Linked DNA regions of Homo sapiens. The protein of the gene in region 2 binds, or shares a complex with, the protein of the main gene of each other region. Each region holds a gene or a part of one and is shown on either strand. Other genes may lie near its edges. A codon is read from its position in the direction of its gene.

Region 1 (3,219 bases), on a different chromosome or scaffold from region 2:
CCTGTAATCCCAGCTACTCAGGAGTCTGAGGCAGGAGAATTACTTGAACCCGGGAGGCGGAGGTTGCAGTGAGCCAAGATTACGCCACTGCACTCCAGCCTGGGTGACAGAGCAAGACATGGTCTCAGAAAAAAAAAAAAAAAATTACTGCATTGTATTGTTTTATTCTTAAATTTTTTGTTACATGTCTTTTCAAATATACTTAAAAGTAGGGACTATGATAGTGATACGTTTTTATCATAGTATATGTGCTAATATTTTGGTGTTCCTTCATCTGGCTTCAAGTTACCAATATTTTGTCATTCTTAATTTTCATATTCAGCTTATTTCTCCCCCCTCCTTTTTCTTTGCTGGATTATTTTAAGGCTTATCAGGTTTATTTCACCTGAGATCCTTAAGTATATTTCTATTATTTCTCAATTAACATTTTGGGTCAGATAACTTCTCTGTGGGGGCCTTTGCTGTGCGTTGTAGGATATTGAGATGTATCCCCAGCCTCCACCCACCGGATGCAAGAGCACTACTCCCTGCTGAGACACCCAAAAGCATCTCCAAAGATTGCTCAGTGTTCCCTGGGGACACCCCCCCTCCTCCAGTTGACAACCACTGCTCTAACCAGATAACCTTAAAAAATTGTTTTGTTTTTTTAACAAAACCACAATAGCATGATTAGATTAGCGAAATTCCTTAGTGCCTATTCCATGTTCAAATTTTTCTATCTCAAGAATTTTTTTTTTTTTTTTTGAGACAGAGTCTCGCTGTTGCCCAGGCTGGAGTGCAGTGTGCCCGCCACCACACCTGGTTAATTTTTTTTGTATTTTTAATAGAGACAGGGTTTCACCGTGTTAGCCAGGATGGTCTCGATCTCCTGACTTTGTGAGCCGCCCGTCTTGGCCTCCCAAAGTACTGGGATTACAGGCGTGAGCCACCGCGCCCGGCCAATAATTTTTTTTTTTTTGAGACGGAGCCTCACTCTGTCACCCAGGCTGGAGTGCAGTGGCGCAATCTCGGCTCACTGCATCCTTCACCTCCCGAGTTAAAGAAGAGTAGCTGGGACAGGCACCCGCCATCATGTCTGGCTAATTTTTGTATTTTTGGTAGAGATGGGGTTTCGCTATGTTGGCCATGCTGGTCTTGAACTCCTGACCTCAGGTGATCCATCTGCCTCAGCCTCCCAAAGTACTGGGATTACAGGCGTGAGCCACTGTGCCCAGCCGAGGATATTTTTTATAGTTTGTTTCAGTAAGGATCCATATCAGGTCCCTGCCTTGAATTTGGTTACAAAGTTTGTGTAATTTATCCTTTGTACCTCACTCCCTCTTTTTTTTTTTTGCAAGCTCTTTTATTTGTAGAAGAAATAAGTTCATCTGCTATATAGAATTTTCAGTGTTCGTGTAGGCTCATTGTATCCTTCCCTCCCTCCATTTTCCTGTAAATTGGTTTAAGCAAGGTTAGAAGCTCGAATAGATCAAGGTTCAAGTTTTTAAATTTTATTCAACCTGGGTTTGAATCCTAATTTCTGAGCTTCCCTTAGTTCACTTATTGTTGGGAGAACATGGCTGTTGGGGTGGTTCTGGGAGCGCCCACCATGGTGGCTCGTGTGGAGTAGACACTCAGCACGAGGGACCCCTCCCCCGCGGTGAGCTCGTCTAGGCCTCCCGCCTGCGCTCTATGGCTCTGCTGAGTTTCTGGCATGTCTCTATTCTTTCTCCCTCTCCATGCCTATGGTGTGTTTATGCTCTTGTTTTTTGATCCTGGAGAATATTTGGGTGAACTCCACCAAACCTGCTTACTAAGGGTCCCTTTCTGACACCTGTGGCGAAGCCCCCTCCTCCCTGTCCCTTCCTGCCTTCAGTGCTGGGGTTGGGTGGACGCTGACTGGCTGTTGGGCGTGAGCCTTGTTCACAAACCTGCCTCTCCTTTCCCCACAGATCTTTGTGGAGTTCACCTCTGTGTTTGACTGCCAGAAAGCCATGCAGGGCCTGACGGGCCGCAAGTTCGCCAACAGAGTGGTTGTCACAAAATACTGTGACCCCGACTCTTATCACCGCCGGGACTTCTGGTAGAGGCGGCTGGGGGAGGGTGGGGGCAGGGCTGGCTGGGGGCTTCTCCCCACTCCCGCCCCCCCCTTATCCCCCTCTGAAGACGATGGGCAGAGGAGTGACAGCCGCAGACACACGACAGCCGGCAGCAACTGGAATGGCAGCAATTAAGGGTGGGGGGCGGGGGTTGGGGGGTTGGGGGGTTAGGGCAGGGAGGGGACTGGGGAAGTGCGCACACAGCCCACACAGACAACACGCACCCACACAGACACAGAGGGAAGGGGTTGGGATGGGGACAGGGTGCACAGCAGGGCGGGGTAGGACCCCAGCCCCTCCCAAAACAGCCTCTCCTTCTCCCATAGACCCCTTTCTTCTCCCCTTCCCCACGGTAGGAACATAGCGTGTTTATATTTTATGGCCAAACTATTTTGAATTTTGTTGTCCGGCCCTCAGTGCCCTGCCCTCTCCCTTACCAGGACCACAGCTCTGTTCCTTCGGCCTCTGGTCCTCTCTGGTCCCCTCCTGGGTTTCTTACGTAGTTGATTTTTCCTCTTTAGTCTCCCCCGACCTGCGCCCAGCCCCGTGGCCCCTGCCCCTCTCCTACTCTCTGTGGCAGTTTCATATTTGCTAAGACGAATTTGCTCATTAAACATTTTGTTGTATTTTACTTTATGGAGCGGCTGTGTGTCCAGTATGTCCGACCCTCTTCCTCGGTTCTGGGCTCGGGTGGGGGTTCCCTTGGCAAACTGCGGGCCCCTGGCTGGGACGCCCCTGCTGCCGGCGCCGGCAGCCTCGAGGCCTTCCCTGCTTGCGCGGTGCCCTTCTCGGGGTCGGCACAGGCACAGCCCCGGGGGACGTGAGGTTCCCGAGTGCTCTCCCACCCCGCCGACAGGAGGGATGGTGGCCGAGCGGGCCGGGGCGGGCGTGGCGTGGGTGTGCCAGGAGCTCCGCGGTTGCCGCCAAGCGAGCTGGAGCTGACTCTCGGCGTTCCGTGAGCACCGCGCGGATCCCCCGCTGCAGCGGGCGGAAGTGACGTAGAGGCGCCTAGCAACGGGGCCCAGCGCGCCGGAAGTGATGCCTTCCAGGTTGGCTTGGCTGCGGAAGCGACTCCTGCCAGGGCGGGGTGCGGCACGGGAGGGCGGGGAGCGCGGCAATTTCCGCTTCCGGTCCGTCGCCT
Region 2 (7,037 bases):
TTCAGCCTCCTGAGTAGCTACAACTACAGGCGTGTGCTACCATGCCTGGCTAATTTTTACAATTTTTTTTTAGAGATGGGGTCTCGCTATGTTACCCAGGCTGATCTCGAACTCCTGGGCTCAAGCAGTCCTGCCTTGGCCTCCCACCGTGCTAGGATTACAGGTGTGAGCCACGATGCCTGGCCTTGAAATTTTTTTTAATAGAATTAATCATTTAGGAATCAATTTATCAGTATTGTTTGTAGTGTTCAGTAAAATGATTTATATTATAGTTAGTTGTCCTATTGGAGTTTTGTTTAATGAAAAAGCTGAGGGTTGGGATTCAGAATATACTTCCTGTTTTTCTGTGATGTCTTTTAGAAGCCTTGTATTTTGGAAATAGTTGTTCACCGGTTATATCTGGCTGAAGGAGAGTAGATATCACTTAGGGACCAGACTGAAAGGTGTAGGTGAGACATTAACATCTGAGGGCAGTATCTGTGTAACATGTAATGAGCAGTGATTAGAACACTGAAAATAATTCAGACGAAAAATGAAAAATAAAAATCAAGGAGGAAGAAGTGCTACAAGTTGGGTTTAGCAGGATCTAAGGCTTAGAAAGAAGAAAAGGGCTGGGCATGGTGTCTCACACCTATAATCCCAGCACTTTGGGAGGCTGAGGTGGGCAGATCACCCAAGGTTAGGAGTTCCAGACCAGCCTGGCCAACGTGGTGAAACCCCCTCTCTACTAAAAGTACAAAAAAATTAACCGGGCATGGTGGCGTGAGCCTGTGATCCCAGCTCCTCGGGAGGCTGTTGCAGGAGAATCGCTTGAACCCAGGAGGCGAAGGTTGCAGTGAGCTGAGATCACGCCACGCCACTGCACTCCAGCCTGGGCGACTGAGTGAAACTCTGTCTCAAAAAAAAAAAAAAAAAAAAAAAAAAGAAGAAAAGGCACAGGAGGGGAAATCAGAGGGACAGAATTGGTGGGGAGCAGTTAAATAGTTTTATCAGATGTGACCTTCTGCTATCAGTGATATGAATTGTTTTTCTCAAGAGCTTGATATGTAGGTCTGAGTTTTAAAATACAGGAGGCCAGGGGTTGCTCACGCATGTAATCCCAGCATTTTGGGAAGTCAAGACAGGAGGATTGCTTGAGACTGCAAACATACAGAAAAGTAGAGAGCGGCTGGCGCTATACTCCAGCCTGGGCAACAGAGCAGGACTCTGTCTCAGAAAAACAAAACAACAGGCCGGGCACAGTGTGTGAAGACAGGTTTTAATAACACTAGGGTAGGCTGGGCACGGTGGCTTACGCCTGTAATCCCAGCACTTTGGGAGGCTGATGTGGATGGATCACCAGAGGTCAGGAGTTTGAGACCAGCTTGATCAACATGGTGAAACCCTATCTCTACTAAAAATAAAAAAATTAGCTGGGTTTGGTGGTGCGTGCCTGTAATCCCACCTGCTTGGGAGCCTCAGGCAGGAGAATCTCTTGAACCAGGAGGTGGAGGTTGCAGTGAGCCGAGATCGTGCCACTGCACTTCAGTTTGGGCAACAGAGTGAGACTTTGTCTCAAAACAAAATAACAAAAAAAACTACCGTGAGTAGTAAAATGAACCCCTCATATACTCATCACCTAGCTTCAACAGTTACAAGCTTAGGCCAGCTTTGTTTAATTTGTACACTGGTCACTTCTACTCTTCCCATTATTTTGAAGCAGATCTTAGACATACCACTTTATCCATAAATATTTCAGTATGTATTTCTGTGTAGGGACTTAAAAAGATAATACCATGATTACACCTAAAATTAAAATAATAAAATATCTAGTCACTGTTCTGTTTTACCCATTCTTTTAAACTTTGTTTTTCAGTTTCAGTCAGGCTTCCAAGAAAACTGATAACATTTTGATTGGTTGGTTTCTCTTATATCTTTTTCATTTCACAGTACATTGTGATTTAATGATTTATCTCTTAAATCTTTTTCAGTTCATAGGTTCCTCCTGTCTCTTTCTTTTTCCTTGCACTTCATTTGTTGCAGAACCTTTGTCCTGTGGTTTCGCACAGTCTGGAGGAATTGGGGAAAGTGGCTGTCTAAACTGGTTCCCTCCTTCCCATTACTGCTGCAATCAAGATGTTAGGGGGCCTACAAGCAATGGAAGCACCCAGAAAATTATTGGCTCTAAGTATGAGCATAGTTCTGAAATCATACTTCAGGTTTAGATTGTGCTAGTCATGGGAAGGAAATTTTTTTTTTTTTTTTTGAGACAGAGTCTTGCTCTGTTGTCCAGGCTGGAGTGCAGTCGCACAATGTCGGCTCACTGCAAGCTCCGCCTCCCGGGTTCAAGCGATACTTCTGCCTCAGCCTCCCGAGTAGCTGGGACTACAGACGCGCGCCATCACACCCAGCTAATTTTTGTATTTTTAGTAGAGATGGGGTTTCACCACATTGGCCAGACTGGTCTCGAACTCCTGACCTCAGGTGATCCATCCACATCGGCCTCCCAAAGTGCTGGGATTACAGGCGTGAGCCACCGTGCCGGCCTGCCTTAGTGTTATTAAAACCTGTCTTGACACAAAAACCTCTAAACAAATGTTTACAGTAGCCTTACTTGTAATCACTGCAAACAGCTCGATGTACTTCAGCTAGAGAATGGATAAACACACTGTAGTACAATGGAATACTACCCAGTAATAAAAAGGCAGAAACTATTGATGTGCACAACAGTGTGGAAATTGGAATATTTAAGGGTTTAAATGGGTTAAAGAGTGCCAGCTTTTGGCAGTTTTGTGTGGCCAATAGGAAGTCCTAGTCTCTTCTTGCTCAGTCACTAGCAGACAGTATCCCTTTTTTCTTTGTCTTCACATCTGAATGTATTGAACTATGAGTCCAAACTGGGAAGGGATTAGGCTGGAACAGGATTTGTTCATTTTGGTCATAATTGAAGTTGGAAGAGATTATTAGCATAGACGTTTCTTTGCCTCAAGTCTTCATTGTTTTTGACCTCTGGTTACTCATTTTGGTATGTTCTCTCATTTTTTATTTTCATAGTTGCCAACCCCCGCCTTTTTTTTTTGAGATGGAGTTTCACTGTGTCGTCCGGGCTGGAGTGCAGTGGCGTGATCTTGGCTCACTGCAACCTCTGCCTCCCAGACTCAAGCGATTCTCTTGTTGCCCAGGCCAGAGTGCAGTGCTGTGATCTCGGCTCACTGCAACCTCCACCTCCCAGGTTCAAGCGATTCTCATGCCTCAGCCTTCCAAGTAGCTGGGATTACAGGCGTGCCACCACCATGTCTGGCTAATTTTTGTATTTTTAGTGAAGACAGGGTTTCACCATGTTGGCCAGGCCGGCTTTGAACTCCTGATCTCAAGTGATTCAACTGTCTTGACTTCCCAAAGTGCTGGGATTACAGGCGTGAGCCACCGCGCTCAGCCAGTTGCCAAGCAGTTTTATGCATTGATCATTTGTTGTCAGAAATGATCTATTTGCATATTTTTAGTCAGTTTATATTTAAGAAATTATAGGAATACTTACACACCAGGCTGTAACTTAGTGTTGGTTTTGAAAATACGGAGTTAGAGACAACATTGTTATTCCCAGAGATAAAAAATTTGAAGTGGAATTTTACAAACCTTGGCTGGCATGGATAGGGGAGAGAAAAATTTGGAAAATTACTTTTAATTACTTCTACAGATTACCTATTTATTTATTTACTTACTTATTTAGAGGCAAGGCCTGGCTCTAACACCCAGGCTAGAGTGCAGTGGTGTGATCTCAGCTCACTGCAACCTCCGCCTCCTGGGCTCAAGCCATCCTCTGACCTCAGCCTCCTGAGTATCTGGGACTACAGGTGTGCACCTGTAGTGACTAATTTTTGTATTTTTGTCTAATTTTTGTAGAGACAGGGTTTCATCATGTTGCTTAGGCTGGCCTTGAACTTGTGAACTCAAGTGATCTGCCTGCCTGGGCATCCCAAAGTGCCCAGCCTCATTACCTTTTAATTAATTAATTAATTAATTAATTAATTTGAGACGGAGTCTTGCTCTGTCGCCTAGGTTGGAGTGCAGTGGTGCGATCTCGGCTCACTGCATCCTCTGCCTCTTGGGTTCAAGCAATTCTCTGACTCAGCCTCCTGAGTAGCTGGGATTCCAGGCACCCACCACCACACCTGGCTAATTTTTATATTTTTAGTAGAGATGGGGTTTCACCATCTTGGCCAGGCTGATCCTGAACTCCTGACCTCGTGATCCACCCGCCTCGGCCTCCCAAAGTGCTGGGATTACAGGCGTGAGCCACCATGCCCGGCCCAGATTACCTTTTATGAAATATTTTAACATGCAGAAGAGAATAGGACAAAATATAATGAACACTAACCCACTGCTCAGCTTTATCAGTTCTTCATTTTCTGCCGTATTTTTTCCCACCTTTTTATTTATTTTGAAAACGAAACCTCAGACACAAAGTTACCTTATTTATGAATGTCATGGTAATAATTTGTTTGCTCATAAATATTTGGGTATGTTATATTTGGTATTTTAGCACATAGTTTATTAAGAAATTTCTGAGTTTTTAGTTCTCTGAATTGCATAATAAGCTGCTGAGTTTTATGGAATCTGACGGCTTAATTTTATGGATCACATGGTGTATGTGTAAATGTGCTGCAGTTTGCAGTGTGTTAACAAAGCCCATTAAGCTGTTTGGACTTTATATCTATAGTTTCCAGCAGACAGAAAACAATGCCTGATTTGCATATAAACATTTAATTGTACTGCCTATAAGAAGTTCAGTAATATACTCACCTTAGGATTAATTAACTACAAACAGCTGCCTAGCCCCAGGAGATTTTGGGCTGGGTAATTTTGTTACTAAATTTTAATAAGAACCTAGTCATGATTTACATAGATTTCATACCAACACTATTTCAGTACTTTATGAACCTTTGTAATTGGAAAACTCTGATGCTAATCAGCAGGTACATAAAATCAATAGTTAAAATTCAGTAGCTGAAATTAGTTCCAGAATAAGTGTTATCCAAATGAGAAACTAGTTGCTGAAACTTCAGGATGGAAAAGTTGTTTAGATGGAAAATAAGAGAGATGCCTGATAAGGGGGAAAAAGCAAGTTGCACAATATGTGTAGTGTGCAGTTTTTATAAAACAGCACCCCTTTCCTGTTTTTTAGTTGTGTATGAGGTAGAGAAAAGTATAAAATGATGCTCTAAATTGGAAAATTTGGTAGGGGTGGGCTGGGGTTGGAAATGGGAGGGGTGAAGGGCCAGGTAAAATAGTTTCCTAGGGTGTTTGTTAATGATGCAGAATCCTGGGCTTCACAGCCTGAGTTGGAGTTTCAGAGTTAGTGTATCCAAGACCTAAGGTTCTACCTTTGTAACAGGTGCACCAGGTCATTTCTTTGTAGGTGGTCCTTATACTAGACTAATGCTGTAGAGGAGATTGCAGACTATTTCTCCTGATTCATCCATTTGTTTCTTACCTAAATCCTCATGGAAGTAGCATTTGTGGTCCTTTTACAAAAACCTATTTAGGTAAAAGTGATAAATGCACCTGTGGTTTAAAAAAAAAGCCTGAAGCTGGGCGTGGTGGTGGGCATCTATAATCCCAACTATTTGGGAGGCTGAGGCAGGAGAATGGCTTGAACCTGGGAGGCGGAGGTTGCAGTGAGCCGAGATCCAGCCACTGCACTCCAGCCTGGGCAACAAGAGCAAAACTCCGCCTCAAAAAAAGAAAAGAAAAGAAGATGCCCGAAGGGGGTGGGAGTGGGGCAAATGTAGATTAAATTTTTCAAAATATGAAACTACAAACAGAAACAAAAGTAGAGATCATAGTAAAAAGAACCACCCTGCTCATGTGAGGATATTTCTGGCTGCCTGGGCTGCTATAATGGTTTGGGGACAAAGTAACATCTGTGCATGTAGTGGTGCTGTGTAACACAACACACTATAATAATTTTGAGATCCGATCACAACTGGGGCTGCTAAACTCAGCATTAAAACTATTCTATCATTTTGAGTTTCTTTCTTTCTGTTTGTTTCTGAGACAGTCTCTCTCTCATCCAGGCTGGAGTGCAGTGGCAGCAATCGTGGCTTACTGCAGCCTTGACCTCCTGGGCTCAAACAGTCCTCCCACCTGAGCCCCCTAAGTGGCAGGGGACTATAGGTTTGCCACCATACCTGGCTAATTTTAGTATTTTTTGTAGAGATAGGGTTTTGCCATGTCGCCCAGGCTGGTTTTGAACTCCTGGGCTCAAGTGATCCGCCCACCTCAGCCTTCCAAAGTGTTTGGATGACATGCGTGAGCTACCGCGTCTGCCTCCAGTTTGTGAGACGTGCTCCTGTTCCTTTCTTATGTGGAAATGTGACCCAGCCGTGCCTTAGACTAGATAAGGACATTTTGTTATCCTGCACATCTATCTTGAGGAACTATAGAGGGCTTTCTCCCTTAGCTGGGGGGGTGGGAGGTTTTGCAAATACAGGATGCTATTTGAATCTTTATCTTTTGATTCATGCAGCTAGCAATTGAGCTTTTTTATTTTTTATTTGATTTATTTATCTATTTATTTTTTGAGACGGAGTTTCGCTCTTGTCGCCCAGGCTGGAGTGCAATGGCGTGATCTCGACTTACTGCAACCTCCACCTTCCGGGTTCATGTGATTCTCCTGCCTCAGCCTCCCGAGTAGCTGGGATTACAGGCGCCTGCCACCATGCCCGGCTAATTTTTGTATTTTTAGTAGAGACGGGGTTTTAGCACATTGGCCAGGCTGGTCTTGAACTCCTGACCTCAGGTGATCTGCCCACCTCGGCCTCCCGAAGTGCTGGGATTGCAGGTGTGAGCCACTGCGCCCGGCCTAATTTTTATTCATTTATTTATTTATTTGAGATGAGTTTTGCTCTTTGCCCAGGCTAAAGTGCAGTGGCACGTGATCTCGGCTCACTGCAGCCTTGGCCTCCCGGGTTCAAGCAGTTCTGCCTCAGCCTCCTGAGTAGCTGGGACTAGAGGCGTGCGCCATTACACCTGGCTAACTTTGTATTTTTACTGGA
Region 3 (7,037 bases), on a different chromosome or scaffold from region 2:
TCTAATTGGTAGAATGCTAAGTAATTCACCTTCATTATCAATTATAAATGTTTTTTAATTTTTCTTAAATGACAGGTTTGCCTCCAGATATTACAGTGGATGAATTTATACAACTTATGTCCAAGTTTGGCATTATTATGAGAGATCCTCAGACAGAAGAATTTAAGGTCAAACTTTACAAAGATAATCAAGGAAATCTTAAAGGAGACGGTCTTTGCTGTTATTTGAAAGTAAGTTGTATGATCAAATAAGTTTCTTGTATCTTCGTTTTTAACTCAGGAACCAGGGCTATAATTTCTATAGATGATAACCAACACCAAGAACTGTTCAAAACAGGATATGAAGAAAACTGAAATTTCAGTTAGTACCTGTGTGTATCACATTGGTAAGATTATTCACTTGTTTTAAGAAAATATGTTATCAGGTAAAAGTATTATATAAGTATGCGACTGGAGTGCTTCTTCTGTCTTGAAAAATTCTCACTAGAAAGATTTTTTTATTGATGTGTACAGTCAATTCAGACTACATTTTAAAAATTCAAGAAGAAAAAAAGCCAGTAACATTTTAGTTGTCCATTGGAATGAATTACACCAGGGTTCAGCAAACTCGGGCTCTGTTTTGGTAAATACAGCTTTATGGAACACAGCCACACTAATTCATTTATGCATTTGTCTATGGTTGCCTTTGTGTTTCACTGATAGGGTTGAGTGGTTGCAGCACAGACCTTGTGGCCTACAAAGCCTAAAATATTTACGAACTGGCCCTTTAACAAAAGGATTTTTCTGACCCTTGAATTAGACCATGAAGGAGACGATAGCTTATTCTTACTGCTTTAAAATATTTTTTTGAATGTGAGAAAAGAGAGAGTGGTATTAAGAGAAATTTGCAGAACTTCATGTAGTCATAGTACCATAAATTACACAAAGAAACCTCAATGCCAGAGGCAGCCATCATTTCTGGAACACCTGCCACCTTAGGAGCATGTGTTATACATTATCACAGGGTACAGAACAAATGATGACATGTACATAAGTCAAACCTGGAAATAATTACAGAGTAAAGTCAAAATGGTAAAGCAAAAGTACAAACACCACAGGTGTGTTGTGAGTATACAGTATTCCAGTGAGATCAGAAGAGAGTAGGATTAAGCTGACAGCTTTTTGGGAAATAGGTTTTTGACCTGAATCTTAAACGTGATGGTTATGGGACATGAGCATGACCATTTTAGGATGGTAGTTTTGTAATGTTCAAATGTAAGGAGATTTGAGGGTTTTATAAGTTCTTTAAGGATTATTAAAAAATCTGCGAACAGATTCTTAGGGAGTTCTGTTAGATTTTTTAAATTTTTAAAGGAAAAAAATTGAGTTTTGAGACCCATAGAAGTACAAGATTGTCAAAACAGTAAATTGAGTTCCAGGAAAATATAGTGAATTATTCCAGGACCCATATATGTGAGCAGCTGAGTTCAGTTATCCATTTTTCTTTTCTACAGGTCCTCTGATCTTTGACTCTGTTTGTATAGGGCTGATAACTGTCCTTTCTCTAAGACCTGGAATCCATACATGTATTTAATATAAAGTACAAGTCATCAGATAATTGTCTTCTACTTCTCAGTGTATTACAGACTCACAATTTAATGGATGAACCAAAAAATTAAAGGCTGTCTATGGTGTTCCCAATTCCTTGAGTCATCTAGTCTTTTAAGTAAGAGTATTATAGAATTTTAAAAGAAATACACCTTAGAAATCATGCAGATTTGCTCCCTTCATTCTGCAAATGAGAAATTGTGGCCTCAAGAGACAAAATTACCCAATAATAATATTTATTGAACACCTACCATATGTTAGTCCTTATCCTTTCCATGCATTATTTCATTTAATTTTGTCAAGAACCTTGTGATGAAGGTATTAACTATTTCCATTCTACATACGACGATATTGGGGCTCAGGAAGCTTGAATAATTTACCCAAGTTCACACAGCCGGTTAGGGACAGCTGTGTCTCAGATGCGGGTTTCCTGGTTCAGATTCTAGAGTTCTTTATCTCAAAGAGAGAACGAGATCTCGTATATTCATAATATATAAATATAAGAATTTAAATTATTTTATGTATAATCATCGTTCATCTAAAAAACTCCTGAAGTTTTATTTCGTTGTATAACTGACTATATTTTGTCTTACATTTATAAAGAGAGAATCTGTGGAACTTGCATTAAAACTTTTGGATGAAGATGAAATTAGAGGCTACAAATTACATGTTGAGGTGGCAAAGTTTCAACTGAAGGGAGAATATGATGCCTCAAAGAAGAAGAAGAAGTGCAAAGACTATAAGAAGAAGCTGTCTATGCAACAAAAGTTTGTAATTTTTTTCCCTTTTGAAAGGTTCCATATATTCTAGAGTATATTTTTGGTAATAGCCATCTAGTTTTATTCTGTCAAGTGTGCCTACACATTATTTTAAAATAATTTCATTAGCTCATCAGGTACCTTTAGCAATCTATACAATAGGTTTAGATTTAGCAGTGGTGGGGATTTTAATTTTCCAGAGTGTCTATTTGTAATATAATAAGGGCTTAAATGAGCTAAGAGAAGCCATCTGTTTGGAAAACGTTGAACATCAAATTAAATAAGATAGTTTAGGCTTATGTACCAGAACCGTTTACTTCTGTGTGGATTGAAATCAGTGGTACCAGGAGCTAAATTTTTCTATACAGGTTTGTTATAGGAATTAGAAATGACAGGATTTTATAATTGTATTTACTGTAGTTGTATGTAGTATATACATAATGTCATCAAGTTTCTATTATTATTCTGTTTGTTTAATATACTTTGAAATATACTAGTTTTAAGAAATTAGTCAAAATGATAAATACTTTTATCAGAGTAAATTCTAATGACACTTCTAACACCATGCTTAAACTAATTAAATATCATAAAAGCATTTAGTTGTGATGTCTCATTGTTTTTACAAGTGTAGGTAAAATTGATAACCACATATTTTTTAAACAATATCAGTAAAATTTATGATTGTAACAGAGTTGAGTAGTTTTATGTATTTGAGTGCAGTTTGTTTTTTATAATGATAAAGTACCTAAAAACCAATACAATTTAAATATATTTTTTAGCCTCAAGGTATATCTTTCTGAACTCATAAATACTAAGAATTAGAGATTTTTCAAGGGTCTCATTGGAATGTTTGTATAATCAGACAACAGTTGCCCTGAAAAACATTTCATCTGGGGATTTCAGATACTGGGATCATTTTGCCTCTGCCTTTTATTTTATTTTATTTTATTTATTTGAGGCAAGAGTCTCACTCTGTCACACAGGCTGGAGTGCAGGGGTGCAATGTTGGCTCACTGCAACCTGTACCTCCGGGGTTCAAGCTATACTCATGCCTCAGCCTCCCCAGTAGCTGGGATTACAGACGTGCACCACCACGCCTGGCTGATTTTTGTATTTTTAGTAGAGATGGGGTTTCACCATGTTGGCCAGGCTGGTCTTGAACTCCTGGCCTCAAGTGATCCGCCCGCCTCGGCCTCCCAAAGTGCTGGGATTATAGGTATGAGCCACCGCACACGGCCCCCTGCCCATTATTTTTATTTCAGAAAGTTTTCTGACTGGAACTATGACTGAAATACAGTTTGTTGTTGTAAAATCCAGTAATTATCTTTATTAAATACTCAGTAAAGTATTGTATGAACAACTCATTCTTTTCTCTCTCCAACAAGTCTGAAGCAAAATTTACAGTTTGTTGTTACTGCTTCATTGCCTCAGGCAGTTGGATTGGAGACCTGAGAGGCGAGCCGGACCATCCCGGATGCGCCATGAGCGAGTTGTCATCATCAAGAATATGTTTCATCCTATGGATTTTGAGGTAGGAAGTGGTGTGCTTACTGATAGAAATGCTGATAGGCTTTTTTTCTCTCAAGGGAGCCTGGAGCTTGCCTCGCCTCATCTTTGTCTTGTCACCTCCTACGTGTTTGTGCAGCGAGTAGTAAAGGAAGATGGAGCCAAGAAGCTACTTAAGTCTTTTGATTTCCCTTCCCTTTGTTTAGCCCAGTATTGTTTTAAAGTGTATCACAGATAAGACTGTTTAATAACCATACTGCGCCCCAAGCAGCAGCTACTTGGTATGGGAAACCATTGAAAAATATCATCATCAAAAGATTTATGGGAACTGCTTGTGGATTTTCAGTGCAAGCCAACAAGTATGGCCTGATTTTGGTGGGGAGTACCAGCTTCACAATTGTAAATGCAAACTTCAGTTTGGTACTAAAAGTTATAATATTTAATGTCCGTGGAAAATTCCAAGAACAGCAAGTAAAAGTGAATAAGTACATCTGTTATGTATCAACTTTTTTAAGTGATTTTAAAAAAAGTTAATGGAACTGTCCTTCCTCCCCTCAAAAAAGTGAATAAAGGAGAAGCAAAGAACAAGGAGTTCTGAGGAATATTGTCATCAAAGTACCTTGTGTTACATTCTGCCTGTATTCTTATCTCTGTCTACTGGTGTAGACTGACTTTATTGTTGTGGAGAAACAACTCTTTATTCTCTCCCTGGTTCTGAAATTAGTGATAGCAAGTTATACAGAAAGCAGGTTATACAGATAGCAAGTTATACAGAGAAAAATGTTCATAACGTAAAATTCCGTTTTTACCAATAATCTAGTTGTAAATTAGTGCCCATTCCTGACCCTTTTGTGCATTTAAACAGTCAAAATGGTAATATAATTGTAGCTCCCTTAGAGAGGGCCCCAAAATGGACAGTTCAGCTCTATCTCAATGAATAGTGTTGTGATAAGGTTTACTGTGTACCTATGGAGTTTGGGCATCTTTTGAGGTCATTGGAAATATACGTCTGGTTTATTTATGAGATTGATTGATATCTCTTCTGACTAGAAATCTGGAAGAATTTTGAAATATAACAGTTTACAGTTTTACAGTTGCAGTGATAATGAAGTATGGTTTATAAACACGTGCACACCAGATGCATTTTGAAATACTGTTTTTGCCAGCAATAACTTTAAAATGAATGCATAGAATTACAAAAATATTAGCTGGGCATGGTGGCGCATACCTGTAATCCCAGCTACTCAGGAGGCTGATTCAGGAGAATCACCTGAACCCGGTAGGCAGAGGTTATGGTAAGATCGCGCCACTGCACTCCAGCCTGGGCAACGGAGCGAGACTCCATCTCAAAACAAAACAAAATAAAACAAAACAAAGAACCAGATCATAGTCATTAAAGCAGCATATAAAATAAATGCACAGATTGATCACAATATTTAGTCTGCTAAATACAACTCCGGGATTTCCTATTATTTATTACATTTTATCCCCCTGCTAAATAAGTGATTTATTAGGTGACATATTTATTTCTGTGACTCGAGGTCTTTGATTCACACATTTCATACTCCTGCCACCCAAGTGTGAATGTAAATGCAAACCTAATTCAAACTATCTGGAACCTCTGCAAGTAGAAGTCTGTTGTGTAATTTTAATCTATTCTTGTTTCTACCTCCTGCCTTGCTCATTGAAATACCTTATTTGAGTCTAAGGATCACCCCAGGCAGACTTAGCTCTTCCCAGCTTAACAAATATTCTTTCCCCAAAACCACATTTATTCTACCTTGACCCCTATACATTCCCTCCAGTGAATATTTTTAAAGATAGAAGTTTCATGCTTGCAAATTCCTGATTTTTTTTTTAATCTTCTTGGTTTAGTATAAACATTACTTTGGAGTTACAGAGCCTTTATACTACCCTATTTTGTTTCCTTCATAGCATTTATTATTATCTGAAGTAATTTTGACTCGTCTACTAGAATGTGAGCTCCATGACACCCAGTATTTTGTCTACCTTGTTTGCTGCTGTATTCTCAGTACATAGAATTTGCCTGGCACACAGTTGGCCCTTAATATTTATGTGATGAAGAATTGAAAGAATTGCTAAATGAAACCCTTGTTATTTACAAGCCAGAGTCTTTTCATTCAGCCAGTGGATAAAACATTTTCTCTTCAGCATCTTTGCAAATGAAAGCAAATTTTCTTCTTAGATGCTTATTCCACAAAGGATGGTGGGACATTGTCTTGGCCGTGGCGGAATTAGTTCACAAAGAAATGCTTGGTGATGCTATCCTTGTTTGCCCACCTTCCTGGCCTCACATGGTCCAACTAGCTTGCTGAGAGCGTGTCAACAAGAAGAGTGACAAATAATCTTGCTTTTGTTCACTGTCTCTGAGCACCTGAACCTCAGTGTAGACCTGTGCTGTCAGATATGGTAGACTGTAGCCATGTGTGGTTAAATGTAAGTTAATTAAAATGAAATAAAATTCAGTTCATCGCTTCTACTAGGCACATGTAGCTAGTAGCTACCATATTGGATAATGCAGATATACAACATTTTCATTATCACAGAACCTTCTATTGGACAACACTGGTATAGACATTATATAACTTTTGATAGAAGTGTCCAACAGGAAAACCTGCTTTTATTGCATGTTTTGGGGGAGTGTTTGATTTGACTCAAGACTCCATATGAACCTAAAGAACACACAGCAGCATTGAGCTTTTTAGTGGAAAACAAAAACTGAATTGTCAGGTTATCCTGAGATATCTGAAAGGAGTCAGATTTTGGGTGGAGGGGTATATTTTGATTCCAAACAGTTAGAAGCAACATACCTAAGAATACTGTCTGATCTGAAGGCTAACATTTTTAATGTAACTTCAGAGGGTCTTCAGTATTTAATTCAAATCCTTACTTTAAAATGCATTGCCTGGCAAATTTGAATACCAGGACATGAAGAGTCAAAACTCAAATGCATTAGCCGGGCATGATAGCACGCACCTGTAATCCCAGCTACTTGGAAGGCTGAGGCACGAGGATCACTTGAATCCGGGAGGCAGAGGCTGCAGTGAGCCAAGATCGCGCCACTGCACTCCAGCCTGGGCAACAGAGTAAGACTCTGTCTTCAAAAAAAAAAAAGAAAGAAAGCAAAGCACTGAGACATTGGTGTAGAAATGGAGGTGATGCCTAC
Region 4 (7,037 bases), on a different chromosome or scaffold from region 2:
CTCCGGCATAAGCTCAATCTTCGGGTAAGCATCATTAAGCTCAATATTCTTAATATTAATGTTAATTAGTCCAGATTTAGTATTATTGGTTATCTAAACTAATAACCTTGAATTTCTTTTCTAATGGTCTCTGAACTGTCTTTGCCAGAGTAATTATTATATCCCTTCTGTTCATGTCTCTTAATTTGATTGTTTTAGTCTTCTAGATGCTGTTTTAGGATAGGATCATTTTCTTGTTTCATATTTCAGTCAGTTTTATATGTTCTGTGCTGGATGGGCTAGTGATGAAGGGTGGGAGTCCCCATCTAAAGGAAGAGGAAACAAAAGGAATAGATGTTAACAGATGATATCTTAGAATATTTTGAAATGAAGATAAACTTGTCTGTCAAATTACATATAGTATGCTTTATTTTAAAAATTAGAATAAACTAATACCTTTTAAAAATATGCATGTACTAATTTCAGAATGGTTTAAACTGCCTACCAGAAAGTTTTGGGCTGCACATTGGCTACATTGGTTTAAGGTGCTGATAGATGGTAAATGAAACACACAGAAAAAATATGCTATGCTATCTACTCTAATATAGACAACTTTCTCGCCTGTGTGCACCTTATCAGTTGCTACACGATGTTTAAACTCCTGTTTTCCAGGAGGGGTGTGTATTTGTGTGTGTACACTTGTCTGTTTTCCAAGAGGTTACTCATCTCCCCAGTGACCCAAGAAAAATTTTAAGTAAAACCCCTGAAATCCTGATTGGAAATATCAACATCACCAGAGAAGCATTGAAAGGTTACCACTTTGGGGGACAAAATGGAGATTATAAGCCCCATTCTTCACCTAGGTGCAGTTTGAACAGGGCTTGACAGTGGCTGGACCATCACTAAGTGAGACTTTAATTCATCAAGCATAACTGAAAATGGAGGCAGTAGATTATATCTTGGTAGCCAGCATGTGTAGACTTGTCTTATTTGGAGCCCACTTGGAATTTTCATTTCAAGAGTAAGATACATTAATTTTTTTCTACCATCTGGTTAATACTTAATGCAAAATGGCAAAAGAACAGTTATGGCTTCCCAATTCATTGAACAATTTTTTTTCCGTTTTATTTGTTATGAGAAAATTAATTTTGAGTTAAGAAATTTTTAATCATTTAAAATTGTATGACAATTATCTTGGGAATATTTATCATGGAGTTTTTAATATGAGGTTTATATTTGTTACCATTTGAGGTTTTTCCTTTTCATTGTATGATTTTGGCTTACAGACTTGTATTTTTACTTCATACTCCAGCTAAAATGCTAGATCCAGGTAAGTATTGTTGAACTTCAAATGCTGTTAATGTTGAAGTACAAGTCATTCTGGGGAGTTGTCTCTATCTCTAGGTCTCTGGTGCTGCACCTCCTAGACCAGGAAGTAGCTTTGCTCATTTTGGGTTTGACGAACAACTTATGCACCAGATTCGGAAATCTGAATACACACAGCCCACTCCAATACAGTGCCAGGTAAGTAAAACATAATGAAAGAAAAATAAAGTAGGGTAGTCTTTCATGACTATATTAATTTAAAAACAAATCACAGCAGTAAAACAGTGTTTAGTGTAGAACCTTGTTGATAAGGATAGAGGTATTTATCACTCTTAAGAAGTCACTAAATGGCTGACAAATATTCTTTTGTATCTGATACGTATGTTGAAAATATGATATGAAGAAAATAATTTATTAGGCCTAAACCTAACCAAAAAGGTTCGTATATAGACAAATTTAGCACTGTCAATGACTAGAATTCCTTCGTTCGTCACTTGAAAATTCTCATTCATTACTGAAAGTTTTAGCTTCTTTTTCCCATTTATATATGGGATTTATTTATTCTTATGCAGAACATTCTCATTTTCTGTATATGAATGAGATAGTCTGTACCTTCTTAAGGGGGGAAAATTTTTAAAATTTTAGCAACCCTTCATTATAAATTGCAATTTTTCTGTTTTGTTTTTGTTTTTGTTTTTTTTGGGGACAGAGTCTCACTCTGTTGTCCAAGCTGGAGTGCAGTGGCGCGATCTTGGCTCACTGCAATCTCTGCCTCCCAGGTTCAAGCAATTCTCCTGCCTCGGCCTCCCAAGTAGGTGGGATTACAGGCGCACGCCAGCACACCTGGCTAATTTTTTGTATTTTAGTTGAGATAGGGTTTCACCGTGTTGCCCAGGCTGGTCTCGAGCTCCTGAGCTCAGGGAACCTGCCCACCTCGGCCTCCCAAAGTGCTGGGATTACAGGCGTGAGCCACTGCCCGGCCTTGATTTTTCATTTCTGTATTTTAAACAAAATGGAGTTGTTTCTGTTCTGTAAGTGGTGGCTGATATCCACGTAATGAGAATGATGTCATTTCCTATAAATCAAGAAGTTAATGAGAATGTTGGATATTGATATTTCTATTTCACAACCAGTATGCATAGCACCAGGTATGTTTTGTTCCATTGCAAATAAAAATGTTAGTAGTCATTTATCATTCCCCAGGATTTGCTTCAGTACATCTTTAGAATTGAAATTTTAGAGTGGTTATATTTTACTTTTTCTCCAGGGTGTGCCTGTGGCATTAAGTGGTAGAGACATGATTGGTATTGCCAAAACAGGTAGTGGGAAAACTGCAGCCTTCATTTGGCCCATGTTGATTCATATAATGGACCAGAAGGAGTTGGAACCAGGTGATGGACCAATTGCAGTGATTGTGTGTCCTACCAGGGAGCTTTGCCAGCAGGTATGTGCTTTCTATAGAATGCCTCCTTCCATATGTGGACTAGCAAGGGACCAGCCAGTCAAGTGAGGTAGAATGACCAGGAAACTTTTTTTTTTAATTGTGATAAGATACACACAAAATTGATTATCTTAACCATTTTTAATGTACAGTTCAGTGGCATTAAGTATATTCACAGTGTTGTGCTACCAGGAAACTTTTGGAAAGTATTATGTGTTAAATATTTTCTATATAACCAAATACATATTTTCCCCTAAAAACTACTGTTTTTATTTATTTTTATTTATTTGCTTTTTTTGAGACAGAGTCTCACTCTTTTGCCCAGGCTGGAGTGCAGTGGTGTGATCTCAGCTCACTGCAACCTCCACCTCCCAGTTTCAAGCAATTCTCCTGCCTCAGCCGAGAGGCTGGGATCACGGGCACACGCCACCACACCTGGCTAATTTTTTTATTTTTAGTAGAGACGGGGTTTCACCATGTTGGCCAGGCTGGTCTCAAACTCCTGACCTCAAGTGATCTGCTTGCCTTGGCCTCCCACAGTGCTGGGATTACAGGTGTGAGCCACTGTGCCCGGCCAGAACTACTTTTTTTAAGAGGAAAAGCCTATTGTGATATGGGGATTGTTTGTATTATAAGCTGACAGTTTTTCTGTAGGATGAGTTCATTTTATCTTGGTAGAAAAGCAGTGACAGGATCAGGAAGAGAAGGGGGTAAAATGAATAAAAGATTTTAGATAATCTGTTGAGATGCAATAATGGTATTCCATTCATTTATACCTTTATGAATAAAATCGTGGTTTTAAAGTATGTTCTAGGTTTCGATTTTTTATGACATCACATTCTGTTTTTCAGAACTTCGTTTGGGTTGTGACAGGTATTTGTTAGTGTCACAGTTTGTTAATATATTATTCACAACTTTGTAGATCCATGCAGAATGTAAGCGGTTTGGAAAAGCATATAATCTTCGATCAGTGGCCGTATATGGAGGAGGGAGTATGTGGGAGCAGGCCAAGGCCCTTCAGGAGGGGGCAGAGATTGTTGTGTGTACCCCAGTAAGTATGCCTTGTGTTTAAATGGCTTCTCAGCCTCCCTCGGTATGGAAAACATGATTAGTTTTGCAGAGAATTTCCCCTAAAGTGTGGTAAAAGCAGGGTTGAAAATATACTGATGAACGGCAGGCTGTGGTTTTAATTTTGATTGGTGGCTAAATTAGCAGTTCAGTGAGAGTCTCTGTGACATATAGGCTAGTAGCTACAAATTCCCCTCTATGTCAAATAGTTTTTCTTATACTCTCCCACAAAATGATTGCCAAGTTCATCAAGAATCAGAAAGATACATATGGTCAGAATAGCCTAGAAGAGTGTAGTTTAAACATTGAAACCTGTCATTATGCTTTAAATCAGGTCACTTTAGAATGCCTCAAAAACTGCTTCTGGCCACTTTCCCACAGAATTTAAATCACAGTGTAAATGAAGATGCCGATTGAGTTTTCAAAATTTCTGTTCCTTTGAGCTAAGTAGTGCATAAGGTATGTGGCTGTTGGACCAGTATCTATTACAGTCTGAGACTAGAGAATTAGCACTTTTGCCAGGAGTGCAACTGCTTAGAAAGTCCCTGTGAATGCCTTTAATTATACTTACTGTTCATTTTGTTGATCTTATAGGGTCGACTGATAGATCATGTGAAAAAGAAAGCTACCAATCTTCAAAGAGTCTCTTACCTTGTGTTTGATGAAGCAGATCGAATGTTTGACATGGGATTTGGTATGCCTTGAATACCAGTTTCTTCTGTCCCCATCCTCATGATACTAGTTTTTTTTCCATGTCTTTCTAGACTGTTTTTTCAGCATGAGAGAAGCTAAAAATACTCCTGGATGGGGTTAGACTATAGAAATATAGCTAAGATGAACATTTTTAGGAGTTTTCTCTGGAAAAGTATGTTAGGTTTTATTGGGTTGAGGAAATTTCAAAGTGCCTTTGTATATAAGGGGAATATTTTCTCTGTCTTCATTTTTATCCATATGCCTTTGATCATAGAGGTTAAGGTCTGTGTTCTTGGGTAGATGAATGTCAGATCATTCGAGGCCCTTTGCTTTCCTATCCTCGTAGCTGTCTTTACTGATTGGAACACTGCTAGACCTAGCCCAGTTGGATGGAGGGAAAATTTTTCACTTTTATGCTGAATGATATGTTTAGGAGCTTCTTTTTTCTTGAGACAGAGTTTTGCTTTTGTTGCCCAGGCTGCAGTGCAGCGGTGCGATCTCACTGCAACTTCCTCCTTCCAGTTTCAAGCGATTCTTCTGCCTCAGCCTCCTGAGTAGTTGGGGTGATAGGCACCTACCCCACAGCCTGGCTATTTTTTTTTTTTTTTTTTTTTGGTATTTTTAGTAGAGATAGCTGTGTTGACCAGGCTGCGAACTCCTGACCTCAAGTGATCCGCCTGCTTCGGCCTCCGAAAGTGCTAGGATTACAGGCATGAGCCACTGTGCCTGGCCTGGGGTTTCTAATTTTCTTAATTCTTACAACTTCTTATGAAGACTTTTACTAATATGGCTTTTTCCAGGCTTCCCAAACTGTATTTCAGGTTATAATAATTTTATTGTTCTGTTTCTTGCAGAGTACCAAGTTCGATCCATAGCAAGTCATGTTCGTCCTGACAGGCAGAGTATGTATGAAGCACCTTTGTTAAACCAAATTTGTACTAAAAAGGGCACTTATTTATTTTATAAGCACTCAGAGTTATGGAAGTAAAAATGATCTTGTGTCTGTTGGTGAGAACCATAATAAGGGAGGTAATGAGTTTATCTGAGCTGGACAGGATCTTAGCACTAGATATAACTTGTTCCTTTTTATAGATGATAAAACCAAGGATCAGAAATTAAATAAACTGCCCTAAATTATACAGTTTTATCAGTGGGTAGAAGCAGTGTACAGTACAGATCTGCTGATTTGAAATCAAGAGTCTTTTTCTGAACCATACTGACAACTTGTCTTAACTAAAAATGTAATAAAAATAGAATAAGAGCAAATCTTTCCCTAGTGAATCAGTTTCTAAACTAAATTTAAAGTTCAGGTGAGCTTATGTAAAAAAACTGAATAATCCTGAATGCCAAAGAAGCTTAATGGGTATGCATAAAGATATCATATTGTTTCTCTAACAGAATTTATCTTACCTTTTAGCTCTCTTATTTAGTGCAACTTTTCGGAAGAAGATTGAAAAGTTGGCCAGAGACATCCTGATCGACCCTATTCGAGTGGTGCAGGGAGATATTGGAGAGGTAACCCTAAGCAGGGCTGGATGGGACCTTAATGGGTTTATTTCTCATATTATGGAACACAGAATTAATTTCTCACTATTGAGATAAAAAAAAAAGATGTTATGTTTATAGATGCAACATGCTTGAGATTGGGTATTTTGCAAGTTGTGGGGATAGACGTAACAAGACTGGCAAAATGTTGGGAATCATTGAAGCTAGGTGATGGGTATGAGTTGATTTTGTTCATTTTGTGTTTTTTTTGTTTTATTGAATGTCTCAAAACTTACAATTGTTTTAAAAAGGCTTCAAAGAGACAAAAAGATGTGCCTGGAAGCATCAGCGTATTAGGTTGGAACTGACGTTTTAATTATTGTGGTAGGGGCCTACGCAGGAGGGAAAGGGTGACCTGGAAGGCCTGGAAAAAATCAGGTTTCATTTCTTACCTGTACATATGCGCTATGTGAAAAATTACTCTGAATTGGGACTTGGAATTCAGTTATGGCTGCTTAGAGAATCCTTCAGTTGCTTGCCATGGTTATTGTTAAGGAAAGCTCTACAAAGTAGTGGGGCATACAAATTAGGTATGTACACCAGGTGGAGAGCAAGGTGATTGGAAAGGAGAGGTGAGTTTTGAGCTGCACTTGACTTGCTGAAGGCCCAAGGAGAACTGGGATTGTTCAAGGTCTTCTCGATGCAGGTAGAAATATAATGCCTAGTCCTTGTTCAGGTGCCCTGTGGCTCCAATGTCACAATCATCTGTTTCATTTCTTCCTTCTCAGGCAAATGAAGATGTGACACAGATTGTGGAGATTCTCCATTCTGGACCTAGTAAATGGAACTGGCTTACCCGGCGTCTGGTAGAATTTACCTCTTCAGGGAGTGTCCTCCTCTTTGTTACTAAAAAAGCCAATGCTGAAGAGCTAGCGAATAACCTTAAACAGGAGGGTCATAATCTTGGGCTGCTCCATGGGGATATGGATCAGAGTGAGAGAAACAAGGTCATTTCAGACTTTAAGAAAAAGGACATCCCAGTCCT

Evidence for each region.
Region 1: the proteins of SF3B1 (region 2) and U2AF2 are in contact, whole or in part, in a crystal structure (PDB 7SN6), measured with the Homo sapiens proteins. Residues at the interface, in NP_036565.2 of Homo sapiens: Ser336, Arg337, Trp338, Asp339, Thr341, Pro342, Ala343, Met346; in NP_009210.1 of Homo sapiens: Met383, Glu388, Glu394, Glu397, Ile398, Asp401, Val402, Glu405, Gln447 (codon at 1,977), Gly448 (codon at 1,980), Leu449 (codon at 1,983), Thr450 (codon at 1,986), Gly451 (codon at 1,989), Arg452 (codon at 1,992), Lys453 (codon at 1,995), Phe454 (codon at 1,998), Ala455 (codon at 2,001), Val459 (codon at 2,013).
Region 3: SF3B1 (region 2) and HTATSF1 share a complex: the UniProt entries of both Homo sapiens proteins name them as parts of the 17S U2 SnRNP complex.
Region 4: the proteins of SF3B1 (region 2) and DDX42 are in contact, whole or in part, in a cryo-EM structure (PDB 7EVN), measured with the Homo sapiens proteins. Residues at the interface, in NP_036565.2 of Homo sapiens: Pro509, Pro510, Lys513, Arg517, Thr520, Asp557, Arg558, Tyr561, Lys562, Asp565, Leu566, Arg568, Pro569, Ile583, Ala607, Ile610, Ser611, Arg614, Glu622, Arg625, Asn626, Arg630, Pro646, Phe647, Ala650, Val651, Lys653, Ser654, Lys655, Lys656; in NP_031398.2 of Homo sapiens: Asn68, Glu71, Glu72, Tyr75, Phe76, Glu77, Asp78, Glu79, Glu80, Glu81, Asp114, Pro115, Leu116, Glu117, Phe119, Met120, Val123, Ala127, Asp130, Met131, Arg133, Leu134, Gly146, Ile147, Arg148, Ile151, Glu152, Glu153, Glu154, Asp155.

The regions. Positions count from the first base shown.
Region 1 is NC_000019.10:55,672,003-55,675,221, forward strand, and holds the end of U2AF2 (splicing factor U2AF 65 kDa subunit), read left to right. Parts: intron 1-1,931; coding exon 1,932-2,066; 3' UTR 2,067-2,714; downstream 2,715-3,219. UniProt on the Homo sapiens protein: Plays a role in pre-mRNA splicing and 3'-end processing. By recruiting PRPF19 and the PRP19C/Prp19 complex/NTC/Nineteen complex to the RNA polymerase II C-terminal domain (CTD), and thereby pre-mRNA, may couple transcription to splicing.
Region 2 is NC_000002.12:197,424,992-197,432,028, reverse strand, and holds part of SF3B1 (splicing factor 3B subunit 1), read left to right. Parts: intron 1-7,037. UniProt on the Homo sapiens protein: Component of the 17S U2 SnRNP complex of the spliceosome, a large ribonucleoprotein complex that removes introns from transcribed pre-mRNAs.
Region 3 is NC_000023.11:136,500,589-136,507,625, forward strand, and holds part of HTATSF1 (17S U2 SnRNP complex component HTATSF1), read left to right. Parts: intron 1-75; coding exon 76-230; intron 231-2,189; coding exon 2,190-2,353; intron 2,354-3,775; coding exon 3,776-3,875; intron 3,876-7,037. UniProt on the Homo sapiens protein: Component of the 17S U2 SnRNP complex of the spliceosome, a large ribonucleoprotein complex that removes introns from transcribed pre-mRNAs.
Region 4 is NC_000017.11:63,805,152-63,812,188, forward strand, and holds part of DDX42 (ATP-dependent RNA helicase DDX42), read left to right. Parts: coding exon 1-24; intron 25-1,383; coding exon 1,384-1,503; intron 1,504-2,572; coding exon 2,573-2,749; intron 2,750-3,668; coding exon 3,669-3,797; intron 3,798-4,408; coding exon 4,409-4,508; intron 4,509-5,361; coding exon 5,362-5,409; intron 5,410-5,924; coding exon 5,925-6,022; intron 6,023-6,780; coding exon 6,781-7,037. UniProt on the Homo sapiens protein: ATP-dependent RNA helicase that binds to partially double-stranded RNAs (dsRNAs) in order to unwind RNA secondary structures. Unwinding is promoted in the presence of single-strand binding proteins.